Linked DNA regions of Homo sapiens: region 2 is linked to region 1. Evidence: fine-mapped expression QTL. Tissue or cell type: subcutaneous fat. Region 1 holds a variant in brackets; the other region holds the start of a gene. All regions are shown on one strand. Distances are from middle to middle.

Region 1 (2,836 bases):
GAACAAAAGGGGGACTCAGTGTAGATATTCCACCTGGAGAAGGGCTGGGACTAGGCTGGGAGGTTTCTATGTGGACTTGAAGCCCCCAGGTTGAGTCTGGGCAGGAGCTGGGGTGGAGGGGAGGCCAGTGCTAACATCTTGAGAGAATGAGAGGGAGTGTTCCGGAAGTTGGAAGCTGAAAGTGACCCACAGGGATCAGCGTGGAGTCTGAGCAGACAGGACTAGCCTCTGTGGAATAGAGGCTCACACAAGGGAGGACAGAAGGATTTGAAAGCAGCACTGGAGAGCATGATGTTGATAGTTCGCATCTCTTCCTTCCCAGGAATTACGTGCCTTATTTATACTTCTTGTCATATTACATTGGCTCAGAGCATCAAAACAGTGTTCGTTAATCACAGTGCTCTTGTTCCAGATCGTGATGGGGGCTGCTCTGGTTACCCATTTTTGACTGAGTGTGAATTGACAGCTTCTCCATTATATTGATGAAGCATCCGTTTACATAGTTTTCTTCTTTTTTTTTATTTTGAGACAGATTCTCACTCTGCCACCCAGGCTGGAGTGCAGTGGTGTGATCTTGGCTCACTGCAACCTCCATCTCCCGAGTACAAGTGATTCTCGTGCTTCAGCCTCTTGAGTAGCTGAGACTACAGGTGGATGCCACCAAGCACAGCTAATTTTTGTATTTTTAGTGGAGACGGGATTTCGCCATGTTGCCCAGGCTGGTCTCGAACTCCTGGCCTCAAGTGATCTGCCTGCTGTAGCCTTCCAAAATGCTGGGATTACAGGTGTGAACTACTGTGTCTGGCCTGTTTATGTAGTTTTCTGAGAGTTCCTTTTTTTTTTTTTTCAAATCAGGAATAGATGTCGGATTTTACCAAATGCCTTTTTCAGATAACTTTTTTCCCCTTTAATATATTGATGTTGAGTTACAATAGTAAATTGCCAGGTGTCGCACCATCCTTGTATTCCTGTAATTCACCCTGTGTCACACCATCCTTGTATTCCTGTAATTCACCCTGTGCAAGGAGGCATTGTGGGCAGGGTGGTGCCCTCTTCCCTGGCCGGTGACCCCTAGGCTCTGGTGCCTCTGAGGGATTGTAAAGGAGCTCTTGGATGAAGGACTGGGCCTGAGGTCTGGCTGGGGAGTGCTGCCATGTGGGGAGTTGCTATGGGTGTGACAGAGTGGCCCTGGTTGTGGCCAGTGAGGCTCAGGCAAGAGGACAGGGACAGGAACCCCCAGAGCCGTCCCTCCTGATGGGGCCTTGTTCCCTTCC[C/A]CAACTCAGAGCAACGACATGCCCTTTGATGAGCTGCTTGCGCTCTATGGCTACGAGGCGTCAGACCCCATTTCAGACCGGGAGAGTGAGGGTGGTGACGTGGCCCCGAACCTCCCAGACATGACCCTGGACAAAGTAAGTGAGGGCCCTTCCTGGAACTGGCTCACAGCTGAAGGTGGGGGGGCCTGGCGCTGCCTCTCTGCAGAGGGGAGTGTTCAGTGAGAGGAGGCACAAAGGCCCCCAGAATAAGTAGAATGTACCTGTGACCACTACCCTGGGGTTGGAATGGCCATGGGCATGGGGCTGGACCCTAGCCTTAACCCCAGGCCACATGTCATTCTGGCTTTGGTGGGTGGAGGGGCACATCGGGGCCTCCCCAGGACTGGTCTCTCTGCCATTCCGTACCCAGAGGTCACAGGTCAAGGCTTGGGTGTTGGGAGCAGGGGCGGGCTGCATTGTAGAAGGTTAAAACCAAATGCACAGTCAGAGAAAGAGCCATGCACTCCGGGCGTGTGCCCAGTGGCAGCTCTAACTGTCTCCAGCTCTGGTGGCTGGGTGTGGGCTCCCACGTGTCTCCTTCCCATCCCCGCTCCCCCCACGCTGTGCACCCTTTGCAGAATGGGAATAGCAGCCCCATGTGAGCCTCAGGGCACTCCCAGTGTCTTTACTGTTGTTATCATTAGTGGTATTGCGAGATTGTTAAACTGTAAAATGTTCTTTACTTTTTTTTTTTTTTTTAAAGGAACAAATAGCGAAGGATTTGCTTTCAGGGGAAGAAGAGGAAGAGACGCAATCATCTGCTGACGACCTCACCCCGTCCGTGACCTCCCACGAGGCCTCCGACCTCTTCCCTAACCGGAGTGGATGTAGGTGACTCTGTCCCCATACTCCACCGCAGCCAGGCCCCCTGCCAGGCAGTCGTGATGCTTGATGAAGGGTCCTTGGGCTGATGCAGGCCAAGAACTCATCACAGATGAGGGCGTCTGCCTGGCGGGAAGCGTCAGTAGCCCTGGGGGTGCTTTGTTCTCCTCCACGCTGGCCAGTGAGCCTGGACTCTCAGAGCGATTTGGTTTAAACAAGTAGGGAACATGTTGGTTCCCCTAGCAGATCCAGGGACAGCATTCCCAGAACCGGCCTCCTTCACAAGCCTCTGTGCTGGCTTTCCTGGGAACTGAGGGCTCGGGGCCCAGAGGTGCAGCAGCTGCATAGAAGGGAAGGCCTCTTTCTTCAAAGGTGCATCCCTGGTCCTGGGTCCTGTGCCCATCTGTTTACCCAATGTCTGGCCAGAGAGAGGGTTATGGCCTGGGGATCAGGTGGATGGAGAATGGGAGTGGAGAGAAGGGGTTGTATAGGCTGCAGGCAGTGGAGACCCTGGGGGACCTGCCTCTGTTTTCCCAAAGCTCGTTTCCTGGCTGATGAAGACAGAGAGCCTGGCTCTTCTGCCTCCTCCGACACCGAGGAGGACTCTCTTCCTGCCAACAAATGTAAGAAGGTACGTGGTTCTGCCATCTCCCCAACCTGGCATCCCGGCCGTGGTTCTGCCGTCTCCCCAACCTGGCATC
Region 2 (2,500 bases), 36 kb after region 1:
CCCACCCCACCGTGAGTGCAGCAAGGGAGCACCTCAACCCTGCCCTTGGAGGGCCACAGGTCAGCTTGCACCGTCTTCCCACCCAGCACCACTCTGGGTGCCTTTGCTGTCTCCCAAGAGCCCCTTGCCCTTGGAGTTCCCTCATGATGCCCCCCTGCCCCACGTGCAGGTGTCTGACCATCCGGGAAGCAGGGTCGAGGAGCTCCCAGTTGAAGTCCAGTTGCTGAGACGCACCCTGTTTTGGTGTTGCTGGGGCAGGGGGCTGATGGTGGTGCTGAACGGGTTTTAGAGGAGGGTCAGGGTGGCAGCGGATCTGGGGCCCAGCAGCCTTGTTTCTGACCCCAGGCCTGCCACTTCCCATTTAAGTGACCGTGAGTGGCAGAGGTCAAGGCTGGACTCCGGAAACGTGGGTCTGACACTCCTGAGGCCTCCCGGATGGTCCCAGCCGAAAGGACCCAGTGTGGGTCCCTTGGGCCTGGGTTTCCCTGGCTCAGGTGCCCTCAATCCCCAGGCACCCTCAGCTCAGGGCTCCCCACGACCTGGTGGGGGCACAGACCCCGGCGCCATTTCATGGGGTTCCCAGCTCCTGGCGCCCCCGTGCTCTTCTGTGAAATGGGACAGCAAGTGCGCTGATAGGAACGGTGCCTGGGCACAGGGCTGCGCCTGGACACCCTACGCCGTCGCAAGGTGGGTGCCGAGGAACTCGAGCTTCTAACGTGCCAGGGGTCCAAGGACGCGCCAGGATTTTGAGTATTAGGAGAAAAGAAACTCCTGAAATGAAGCCACGTCGCCCCTTCCACTTTAAGGTGCCTCCTGCTGTCGGAGTTTCCAGGCGCACACGGCGCGGCTGCCACTCCCTGAGGAGGAAAGTCGGGAACCGTCCCGCGGGGCCGGTCCCGCCGCTGCTCGTCCTCCTTCTCCACGTCCCCGCCCGGGGCTCCGCCGGCCCGACCCGCGGGGAACCTCCAGCCTCTGAGGACCTCACGCCGCTCGGAGACCCGCACAGCCCGGGTCAGGGCCGGGACTCCGGGCGGACGAGGTCCCCGTGGCGCCCGCACGCTCGCCCCACCCGCTCTTTTGGGCGCCGCGGCCAGGCGGGGGCAGAGTCCGCGCGGTCCCGGGTCCGCCGCGCCCCGCCCCCCCCGCTGCTCCCCTGCCCGCCGCTGCCGTCCCCCCTCCCTCCTCCCCTCCCCCCCTTCTTCCCTTCCCTCCCCCTCCCCCCTCCCCTCCCCGCCCCTAGCCCTCCCCTCCTCCCCTCCCCCTCCCTCCTCCCCTCCCCGCCCCTAACCCTCCCTCCTCCCCTCCCCTCCCCTCCTCACCTCTCCCCTCGTGCCCTCCCCGCCCCTCCCCTCCTCCCCTTCCCGCCCCTCCCCTCCTCTCCGCGCGGGGCGGGCTCCGCGCCACGTGACTCCGCGGCCGGGCCGGGACGCGACGGGACGCGCTGGGACCGGCGTCGGGGGTCGCGGGGACCATGCAGCGGAGGTGGGTCTTCGTGCTGCTCGACGTGCTGTGCTTACTGGTCGGTAAGAGCCTTGGGGACCCGGGTGTTGGGGGGACCCTCCCGGGACGGACACGCCCCCGGCTGCGCGCAAGTTTGCAGGGGAACGCGGAGGCTGCGCGCCCTCGTCCCTCCGAGGACCCTGGAGGCGGGGACCTCGCGTGAGGACCAGACCTCCCTCCGCGCCCCGCACTGCGCGCGCCCTCCCAGGCTCGGGGGTCCCCGCGTCCCAGGCCCAGGGGGATGGGGGTCGCGAGAGGCCCGGGGAGCCGGGGCCAGCATCCCCCGCCCCGGCAGCAGGAAGTCTGTGCGGAGGGGCCGCGCGCGCGCCTCCATCCCGCCCCGCCTGGCCTGGGAGGTGAGTCACGCGGGCCCGGGAGGTGGGGGCGGCCGCGGGTTACCCCGGCAGGACGTCCGCGCCTCCGCCCCTGGGGTGGGCGCTCCCGCTGCGCGCGGAGAGGGCTGACCCTCGGTCCTGGCACCCGGTGCGTCGGCGGGATTCGAACCCGTGCACGTGCGGGGAGGCCCAGCCGCCCTGCTGGCTCGGGCGGGGGAGACACTGGGGATGAAGGCTGGGTCCCAGGCTTCGGGTGAACGGGGTGGCGGGGGGCCGGGAGGCCAGGAGAACCAAACCTGTCCGGCGGGTTTGCGGGCCACACTGGCGGAATGGGCATCCCGAGGCCCCCCTCCCGCAGGGTCCCGGGAACAAAGGCCGAGTGTTTGCTCTGTGGCTGCACAGACAATGGCCCTGGAATTCTATCTCTGGGGGGTGCCCTCCTCCCCAACGTGTTTCCTGCTTCTCTGCCATCTCACAGCAGAGGCCAAGTCCTCTTACCTCCGGAAGGAGACCCTTTTTTAGGGTGGGCCAGGTGACAGCAAGAAGTCCCTGTGGGTGTCTGCCAGCCCGTGGTACCATTTCCTGAGCACCTATGGTGTTATTTATGTAAACATTTAGGTGGCACTTTCTGTATGCCAGGAACTAAGCAACATGCAAATAACAAA

The links. PIP is the estimated chance that this variant, and not a neighbour inherited with it, causes the effect.
Region 2: it holds the start of PLPP2, and the variant in region 1 is fine-mapped to the expression of PLPP2 in subcutaneous fat (GTEx, PIP above 0.99).

The regions. Positions count from the first base shown.
Region 1 is chr19:326,437-329,272 of GRCh38, reverse strand. MIER2 (MIER family member 2) reads left to right here. Exons shown (of 14, transcript NM_017550.3): 4 at 1,284-1,409; 5 at 2,017-2,140; 6 at 2,675-2,766. Among named protein-coding and RNA genes, the nearest start is that of MIER2, 17 kb to the left of the region's middle. RefSeq lists a silencer at 898-1,098 and an enhancer at 1,112-1,612. The variant C/A (reference allele first, on the strand shown) is at 1,275.
Region 2 is chr19:290,308-292,807 of GRCh38, reverse strand. It overlaps PLPP2 (phospholipid phosphatase 2), which reads left to right and starts at 1,405. Exons shown (of 6, transcript NM_003712.4): 1 at 1,405-1,523. The coding sequence starts at 1,472. RefSeq lists enhancers at 1,511-2,208, 2,239-2,500, 2,209-2,500.